Homo sapiens: one gene and its partners. The protein of the gene in region 1 purifies or fractionates together with the protein of each later gene. This does not show direct contact. Each region holds a gene or a part of one and is shown in the gene's direction. Other genes may lie near its edges. The genes, in order: FYB1, FER and PYGB.

Evidence for each region.
Region 2: the proteins of FYB1 (region 1) and FER purify together in Homo sapiens (pull-down; one study listed by IntAct). This does not show direct contact.
Region 3: the proteins of FYB1 (region 1) and PYGB purify together in Homo sapiens (affinity purification with mass spectrometry; one large-scale study listed by BioGRID and IntAct). This does not show direct contact.

What each region holds. Positions count from the first base shown.
Region 1 is NC_000005.10:39,104,636-39,108,200, reverse strand, and holds the end of FYB1 (FYN-binding protein 1), read left to right. Parts: intron 1-735; coding exon 736-758; 3' UTR 759-2,949; downstream 2,950-3,565. UniProt on the Homo sapiens protein: Acts as an adapter protein of the FYN and LCP2 signaling cascades in T-cells. May play a role in linking T-cell signaling to remodeling of the actin cytoskeleton. Modulates the expression of IL2. Involved in platelet activation.
Region 2 is NC_000005.10:109,194,551-109,197,432, forward strand, and holds the end of FER (tyrosine-protein kinase Fer), read left to right. Parts: 3' UTR 1-2,291; downstream 2,292-2,882. UniProt on the Homo sapiens protein: Tyrosine-protein kinase that acts downstream of cell surface receptors for growth factors and plays a role in the regulation of the actin cytoskeleton, microtubule assembly, lamellipodia formation, cell adhesion, cell migration and chemotaxis.
Region 3 is NC_000020.11:25,250,940-25,254,598, forward strand, and holds part of PYGB (glycogen phosphorylase, brain form), read left to right. Parts: intron 1-3,659. UniProt on the Homo sapiens protein: Glycogen phosphorylase that regulates glycogen mobilization. Phosphorylase is an important allosteric enzyme in carbohydrate metabolism. Enzymes from different sources differ in their regulatory mechanisms and in their natural substrates.

The sequences.
Region 1 (3,565 bases):
CAGTCATAGTGAATTTACTGTTTTTATAAATGCTAAAAATAGCTTGTTGGATTAGAGACTTCCAATCTGATCAGAATTTGAATCACTTGAAAATGTTAGAAAAGGTAAATGCCCTGGCATAATGGGGGGAAAATACCGCATTTCCCACAAGATGGAAAATTAAGGAAAAACCTTATTTATTTCTTTGAAAACAGAAGTATAAAAATATTTGGGAAATTTTTTATTGTACTGTGACTCATAATAAGAATTTCTTTTATCCAAGCAAATAAACATTTTTGGCAAATAAATAGGTACTTATTTCATAACCAGTAATACCAATATTCTCTAAGCATCATATAGTTCCAAACTGTAATCTAAAAAATTAATCTAACTGAAATGATGCAGTGTTGATCATGATTTCCTTTAGTCTTTTAAACTTATGAGTCTTGCTCTTTAATATCTTCAACCTCGTTCAGAGTGACTACCAAAAAGTATATGACTAAGTGCCACATAAAATAATCTTGAGTCTCATTTTAATAGAGAATAAATCTGTCCAGAAATTTTGTTGAATTATATACTAAATAATAAAAGTTAAATATATGATCTTCCATTTAACTCATTTTTTATAAAGTGAGCCAGTTCTATTTTTTTTAATCCTTAACCAGGAGAGTATGAATCACCCACATTTCCAAACTTGGAATACTTAGAGAATATGTTTTTAATAACTATATTTAAATTTGTATTTTTTCCTTTCAGGCTGCATCTATGACAATGACTAGCACTCAACTTTGGTCATTCTGCTGTGTTCATTAGGTGCCAATGTGAAGTCTGGATTTTAATTGGCATGTTATTGGGTATCAAGAAAATTAATGCACAAAACCACTTATTATCATTTGTTATGAAATCCCAATTATCTTTACAAAGTGTTTAAAGTTTGAACATAGAAAATAATCTCTCTGCTTAATTGTTAACTCAGAAGACTACATTAGTGAGATGTAAGAATTATTAAATATTCCATTTCCGCTTTGGCTACAATTATGAAGAAGTTGAAGGTACTTCTTTTAGACCACCAGTAAATAATCCTCCTTCAAAAAATAAAAATAAAAGAAAAAGGAAAATCATTCAGGAAGAAATGACCTGTCTAAAAAAACCTAAGGAAGAATAATAATATAAGAAAGGAAATTTAAAAACATTCCACAAGAAGAAAAATTATTGTTTATACTTCTACTTATGGTTATATCTTATATTCTCTATTCAAGTGACCTGTCTTTTAAAAAGGCAGTGCTGTCTTACCTCTTGCTAGTGGGTTAAATGTTTTCAAAAATTATAGCAGTAGTAGAAGTTTTGTATAAAATTTGTCCTTATTTGTTAATTGTATATAAATGTTAATTATTTGATACGAATGTTATGCATTTAGTATGCACATTGAAGTCTAAACTGTAGAAGAGTCTAAAACAAGTTCTCTTTTTGCAGATTCACATACTAATGGTTTAATTCTGTGCTCTGTTTAAAGTACTATTATAACTAGAGTAGATCTGAATGAGGATAACCCTAAAATCATGAGGAATGGAAGAATGGACCTTGAAACTACCTAGGCTTTTATGCATGGCACCTCTTTATAATGAAGACACTTTTTAAAGTTTTTGTTTTTGTTTCAATTACCGCTAGATTTTTTTTTCTCTTTTTTTAAAATCCATTTTACTGGAAAGTTGGCCAGCAGAGGGAGTAGAAATTATTAAAATTCTAGTGTTTGGATTGGGCCCTTCTCTAACAGTACATACTCATTCCCAAAGCAATCCAAAAACAAAATGTGAACCATTTGGGTTTCAAATGTTAAGAACACTAAATAGCATGATTTAAAAAATGAAAAATGCTAACACCCAAGAAAAGAAGATATTAAGTGCTTTTTAACAACTCCTAGAGTACAAAATGAGTACATCATAATGCTGGCTCTTCTACTAATGAACCATCGAGTGATATTGAATAAATTATTTATCTTCTCAGTTTCCTTATCTGTAAATTACAATATTAGACTAAGTAAGTTTTTCCAACTCTTCACTACCAATTACCTTAGGCTTTTATAATGCTCCGCCTACTTCAGTCCCATGTTTCAGAAGCTTTTGTCTATTTTTTAAACTCATTGATTAAATAATGATTAATGCATTCTCCACATTTTAATATTGCAAAGGCCCATTGGAGTTTCTGAAGTGGCTCCACAGAATTGAAATAATTTCAAATAACTGTAAAGGAACTGAAAATCTTCACAGAGATGAAGTGGGGTTTCCATTAGGTGCTTTGAAATTTGATAACAAATCATCAACTTCCACTGGTCAATATATAGATTTTGGGTGTCTGAGGCCCCAAGATTAGATGCCACTAATCTCCAAAGATTCCCTCCAATTATGAAATATTTTAATGTCTACTTTTAGAGAGCACTAGCCAGTATATGACCATGTGATTAATTTCTTTTCACACTAGATAAAATTACCTGGTTCAAAAGTGGTTTTTGTTTATTAAATTTGGTAATAAATATATATAATACACAGACAGGATAGTTTTTATGCTGAAGTTTTTGGCCAGCTTTAGTTTGAGGACTCCTTGATAAGCTTGCTAAACTTTCAGAGTGCCCTGAGACACTTCCAGCCATCCCTCCTCCTGCCTTCATTGGGGCAGACTTGCATTGCAGTCTGACAGTAATTTTTTTTCTGATTGAGAATTATGTAAATTCAGTACAATGTCAGTTTTTAAAAGTCAAAGTTAGATCAAGAGAATATTTCAGAGTTTTGGTTTACACATCAAGAAACAGACACACATACCTAGGAAAGATTTACACAATAGATAATCATCTTAATGTGAAAGATATTTGAAGTATTAATTTTAATATATTAAATATGATTTCTGTTATAGTCTTCTGTATGGAATTTTGTCACTTAAGATGAGCTGCAAATAAATAATACCTTCAATGGATAACCTTGCCTCCTACTTCATTAAAAAAATTGAGGCTAGCCAGATGCGGTGCCTCACATCTGTAATCCTAGCACTTTGTGTGGCCGAGGAGGGCACATTTCATGAGCCCAGGGGTTCCAGACCATCCTGGGCAACAAGGTAAAACCCTGTCTCTACAATAAATACAAATAATTAGCTGGGTGTGGGGGCACATGCCTGTAGTTTCAGCTACTTAGGAGGCTGTGGTGGGAGGATCACTGGAGCCTGAGAGGTCGAGGCTGCAGTAAGCCATGATTGTGCCACTGTCTCAAAAAAATTTACCCTGTCTCAAAAAAAAGAAATAAATATATTTTTTTAATATTGAGGCCATCAGGCTTCCTCTCTCTTAACTTGATCCTACATCTACAAAACAGTCTTTCTCTGCATCCAACCTTGACTCTAGCTTCAGCCTCAGAAGACGGGATATCTCCTCTTCAAGACCAAACCTTCTACCAAGACTCCTAATACTTTGACTCCTATTTTGTGTCAGAAATTAAGATAACTAAACGCAATTCCTTTCAATTCCCTACAACCTTTGACCTTAACCCATATCCAGACACTGTCCCAGAGAATAAGATGTCATGCCTTAAATTCAAAGCCA
Region 2 (2,882 bases), about 70 Mb from region 1:
AAAGAAGACAATAGAAATCCCACTTTACCCCACTGTCATCAGTTAGAACACCCTTGCAAAAACTGTAACCACTTAAGCAATTCATCTGATCCCAGAAGATCATACCTTCTTTTGAAAGTATAGGACAGATATCAGTGGGAAACGTCGGCGTTCTGAGCAACACAGGATAAATGTAGGAGGGCCTTAAAAAATAAATCTCAATTCATACACTGGAGCAGCAAAAAACTGAGCAGGAAAGGAAACAGAATCCAAAGTCATTTTTCATATAGCTGTTGTCAAATAGTATAACCTTGGTGTCTTCTTTGAGTTGCCTGGACAGTATTTATGAAACAAAAAACTAAATGCCCCCCATTTGGGGACGGGGGGAGGGGTTCAGACCTCTAACCTGGATTCAGAGCCTTAGAGGCCGAGAGGGAATCTGGAATCTGGTATTACTGAGATCCTAGGTAAAAGAACCAGCCTGGCAGTCTTTCCCACCTCATTGGTCCGTGCTTTTATTTTTAAACCCAAAAGAAAGAAAGAAACACACCCTCTTATGTAGGAATTTCCCTTTTACAAATAATTTGACCTGGTAGAAATAAACTTGCCTGCCTGCTCTTAAATGCCAGACAGTTGGAAGCAAATGCCGAGGGAAAGGTGCCCAGAGCCATGCTTGATAGGACTTTGAATATTTTCTCCTTAATTAAAGTACGTTGCTTGTATTTAGACTATAAGATGCTATGGAGGTCTATCCCATGCCATGCCAATGTGAATTGCTTTGCTTCAGTAACAATCAGAAGACCAGTCCAACAGAAAATAACTTGTCATAATTCCACCTTAGATTCTAGACCTCTCATACCTGCAGTGTACAGAATATGTACATGTTCCAATGGAATTCACTATTTTTGGCTTTAGTGTCAAAGAGATTGGTTCTACAAGGTTCATCTGATTTCCCATAACAAGTAAATTTTATAATCCTATGATTCTAAATTCAATCCCCAATATAGATTCTAAGCATCAAATCAAAATCACAGACAAAGGGGAACTGGTCGAGAGGGGTCTTAGTTATTTCAAATCCATGACCAAAGTGTCCAAAGACATGAAACTCTTATACCTGCTGAGCATTTCACTTTACTATACAAAATGTCAGCTACCCAGTTGCATCCTGTGACATGATCAGACTGTCAATGTGGACCAGTGGCCAGGAGCATATTTATGGGCCATTTCTGTTCATCATTCTTTACAGAGCATTGAGGTTTCCCACTGAAACAGCTTCTTTAGTCAGACGTCTATAGATTTTACATAAATTTACATTTAAATGCATTAAGTTAGATGGCCCAATTGAGCATCTGAATGAATATAGTGGGGGTTGGTGGTGGTGCAAATTCTGCTGGCTTTATGTTATGGTTTTCTTCGTGTTTTTTCTTGGTTTTGTCTGGCTTCTTCTGGCAAGTGCCCTAAAAGACTGGAACACTGTATAAAGTCATAGACATAGAACCATATGGGAAAGCCCAGATGAAAAAATGGAAGAATAAAATCAAGTTGTCAAAGTTCCAGCAACAGCCCTGACTTCTTCAGGAATCCAAGCAAATTGAAAGCCAAGACAAAATGTACAAATGGTGCCCATGCCATTCATTTGACTGTGGGTGGCCCTCTAGTCTAGGGCTCTCTTAGTGAATGGTTGTGGAAATATGATTTTTCTAAGTTCCTTCCTTTTCCTTTTGATAGATGAGTTTGAGATGATGGAGTAGGAGTGGGGCCCTCAGGCACTTCTGGTAAAGACATTCCACCTGCAAGCAGCATTTTGAGTAAAGCACTGCTGTGGTTTGCCGATTTATGGTCCATTTAATGTTAGGCTAAAGCACCTTTAATCATTTTTGTTGTTTTAAGATAATGTATTTGTGAAGTGGATAAACACTGGAAATAGGGTGCTTCTTCTGGAAAGTTCAGTGTAAAACACAAACAAGGCTTTGGCGGGTTTATCTGGCTTTATAAACAAGTCTGAAAAATGGATGAAAGCTAAATATATAAAGCAGTTGGTTGTCTATCTTTTATCATTTTTACTCAGATCTGTATTTAACACTTATTTATTTGTTAGTTTTTACATTCAAAAGAAATACACTTTGAACTTTGGCTAACATTGTAGGATATTTTTTAATTGTTTCTACATTTTTAAAGCATGATTCATCATTTTTGTAAACTTAGATCATTTTTTAATTGTCTTTTCTTTTCCAATAGACCAGTTACCACTCATGTGTCTGCAGAACCTCTTTATTGTATTCCTATAATAAATGTAAAATATTTGTAGCAAACTGTGCCTTGTCTTATTTAATCTTTCCATCATGTTTATATTTCTCTTCCTTTTCCATATAAATATGCTCCAAGTGGAAGAAAAGGCAGGCAAGATTTCCATGGTAACTGGCCTCCTAGGGATATAACAGTGCATAAAAATTATTAGCTTTCAGTTTCTCTGTAATTAAGCTTATTAGTTCTGATGATAATGGGTGTGTGTTGCTTACAGTCCAATCACTGCTTCCTGTTTAGAAATCAAAACTGTAATGGAGCTCAAGTCCCAGTTATCTGGGTGGATTCGCTATTTGCGTGGATTTTTGTGTTTTACTTTTGGGTTTTTGGGTTTTTTTTTTTTTTTTTTTTTTTTGCTTTTCATAACAAGATTTGTTTGACATAACACAAGGATTTGCGGGAGAAAGATGGCTGAGAGATGTTTGGAAACAGAGGCTGAAGCCTGCTACCCTAGAGCAGTTCAGATGTGTATCCTTGCCTGTCCTGTACAGGACTGAGCTGGTCACAGAGCCATCGCTTAACTTCTAGGTACCCTTCAGTTGGCAAATCGGTAACCTTCCTAAAACTGCCGGCTGTTATTTACATGGATTTTGGGCAAC
Region 3 (3,659 bases), on another chromosome or scaffold:
TTCTACATTGTTTTTTCCGTATTGGCAGAAACTTGTTTTTAATACATAAAATAACATTATACTGAACCTATTGTTTCATAACTCTTAGCACTTTATTTGTGGTACATAGCGAAAGAGTAGAAGTTGGGGTGTTCAGAGGAAGATTTGTCAAGCTTTGCCATGCTTGGCAAATCAGCACGTCAAAACATCTGGCTAACATGGAGAGCTTTGTGCTTGGCAAGAGGTGGCGGTTGGTCATGAAGACATTTAATGGATTCTCTGAAGTGGTGGCAAGGTGGCAAGGAGAGTCCAACCTGAAGCTGCAGAGCCTGGGATTGCGCTGCATGGAGAAGAAAGGGTGTGCGTGATTCCACGCTCCTTTTCATCCTGGCCTTTCCATTCGGTCTGTGCAACTGTGGGCTTGGGCGGATTTCTTTGCCATTATTGGCCTCAGTTTTCTCATCTTTAAAATGAGGGGAATCAAGCTGGTGATGTTTCCGAAGTCTGTTGCCATTCTGAAATGTTAGAGTTAAAATGTTTCTATTTCATATTGAATTGACATTCCATCTCTATCCAGAGAGAATTTGAGGATGCTTATGCTAGATACAGCACAAAAGGTTCACATTAGAAGGCCTCAGAGTGAGGGTTGGGGTGGGACAGTGAGGGTCAGGACACAAAACACAGACCAGGATCCTGGCAGTGAAAGCAGCCCATGCCCAGTTATGAGAGTCACGGGATCCCTTCTATAACATCCTGAAAGGACAGTTGCACGGTTTATTCTGTGGGCCTTTGTGAAGCTGTGTTGTCGATGTGCTGAGCCACTGACCTGCAGCACCCCTGCAGTGGATGTAACAATCAGTTTTTGAGACTCTTCCCATAAGCTCCTGGCATGACTACAACACAGATTAAGGAAAAGCAGCTCTACCTTGGGGCCCACACTGCTGTCCTAAATATTCCTAATGAGATAAACACAATGAAATACGATTAATCTTTTGGTTTGGCTGGACCCAGGAGTTAAAGAAGATGATCTAGAGAAGTGTTTTGCAGACCCTTCTGCTCTGTGATCCCCACTTCTGGGATTTGTTTTAATTAGTCAGTTGTGGTACCAGCCTCCGGAATCCTAACACTCCCAATTTTTCTGATGTATTTCCACTTTTATGTGTGAAGTTGAGCTTGCATCTCCTGGGCAGGCTTCCCTGACAGCAGATCGCTCAAAGTCATTTTCTCTGACCAGTAGCTGATGGTGGGTGCTGTTTTGTGTTGCTGACAGCTAGCCACTTGGAAGGTAGGCCTCAGCTGTCATTTTAGCAGATGGAGAAGCCTACAGTGTGTGCCTTCATTTTCTGCAGAAGACAGCCTGGCCTCTGCCCTTGCAGGCTGTGGTGGCTGGTTTTATGTGTCAACTTGGCTGTTGTGCCTAGATAGTAACGTGGATGTCCCTCTGGGGGGGTCGGGGGGTGGTGTTTCCCACACTGACTGAGCATCTTACAATTCAGTTCCGTTCTGATGCTGTCTACCTAGATGTAGCCTCGGATCCCACAGGCTAAAGGCTCAGTCCCACAAGACTTCTCCACCCCAGATGTCAGTTGCACATCAGGACCTCCCTTCTGACCTCTGACCGACAGCCTCCTCAGGTTTGATGATTTGCCAGAATGGCTCATGAAACTCAGGGAAACACTTCACTTGCGTTTACCAATTACTTACAAGGAATACAACCCAGGAACAGCCAGATAGAAGATATGCAGAGGGCAGGTCTGAGGGAGGGTGCAGGGGCTTCCATTCCCTCTGCAGGTGCCACTGTCCCAGCACCTCCAGGATTCACTGAACTGGAAGGAAGCTCTTCCATCCCCTTCAGTTGGGGATTTTATGGAGGCCGCAGTTACCTAGTGTGATTATTGGCCATTGGTGATGAGCTCAGCCTTTAGCCCCTCTCCCTTCACTGGAGGTTGGGGCTGGCGGGAGGGGTGGGCCTGAAACTTCCAACCCTCTAATTAGAGCTGGTTCCCCTGGCAGCCAGCCTCTGCCCTGAGGGGCTTGCCAAAAGTCACCTTTTGGTGACCACATCAGGCGTGGTTGAAAGGGACTTGTTATGAATAACAAAAGACACTTCTTTCATTTTTATTGCTCTTATCACTTAGGAAATTACAAGGGTGTTAGGAGCACAGGCCAGGAAGAACAAATAAGTATATCTCATTACATCACAGTTTCACAGCCTCCCATGGGGGAAGGCCTTGCAGAACAAACCCTGCCACCAGCTACCTTGCACCAGAGCTGCAGCTTGCCTGGGTCTCCAGCCTGCTGGCCCACCCCACTCTGTAGGTTGTGGCCTTGCACTTCAGAATCACTTGAGCCAATTTCTTAAATCTGTCTCTCTCTACACATACCTTACTGTTCTGTGTCTCTGGAGAACCCTGACTAATCCACAGGGGCCGTGGTGGCTTTATAAAATATGGCCGGGCGTGGTGACTCACACCTGTAATCCCAGCACTTTGGGAGGCTGAGGCAGGTGGATCACCTGAGGTCAAAAGTTCGAGACCAGCCTGACCAATATGGTGAAACCTGGTCTCTATTAAAAATACAAAAATTAGCCGGGCGTGGTGGTGGACATCTGCAGTCCCAGCTATTCGGGAGGCTGAGACAGGAGAATTGCTTGAACCAGGGAGCCAAGACTGCGCCATTGCACTCCAGCCTGGGCAACTCTGCCTAAATAAAATAAAATAAAATAAAATAAAATAAAATAAGGTAACCGACCTCACCTCCACATCTCAGCCATATTTCCTTTTAAACTTTATGTGATTTCAGACCCTTAAAAAGTTGCAAGAATAATACAGAGATTTCTTGTAATTCCTGTTGACGCTTCATCCGGATTCCCCAGATGTTAAACATTGCAACACACTTGTTAGGTCATTTTGTCGCTGTAAGTTCATTTTTCTCCGAATCATTTGAAAGTAAGAACCAGCCTGACCAACAAGGTGAAACCCCTTCTTTACTAAAAATACAAAAATTAGCCAGGCATGGTGGTGGGCGCCTGTAGTCCCAGGTACTTGGGGGACTGAGGCAGGAGGATTGCTTGAACCTGGGAGGAGCAGGTTGCAGTGAGCTGAGATCACGCCACTGCATTCCAGCCTGGGCAACGGAGCGAGACTCTGTCTCAAAAAAAAAAAAAAAAACTGAGTCATAGCCTTGTTGCCCCTTCACCCCCAAAAACGGCAGTGAGTACTCCGGAAAAACAGGGAAGCTCTCCTACACACCCACAGTAGAGCAGTTAAACTCTGGACATTTTAATCAACACAGTGCTGTTGTCTGCAAATCTTTTCAGTGTCACCAGCTGTCCTGCTTAATAAATACAAATAAAATGCAATAATACAATTGTAAAAAATACAAATAAATAATTGGGAGAACTTTAGAAGTCTTTTCAGATTATATCTTTTATTATTATTATTATTAAACGGATCAAAGCTTTAAGCCATTTGGAAATTCAAAGCATCCTAAGACATGCAGCAAATAACCGCAGGAGATAGGAGCTGGCTTTTTCTCACCCATGCAGAATGGCATTCTTAGGATACGGTGAAGGGAAGAGAAGTGAACACAGATTTAGAAAGGTAATTGGACAGTAAGAGAAGTTCGGTTAACAGTGTCTTCAACAGTACCTTGAGTAGGAATGACATGTAATTTTAGGT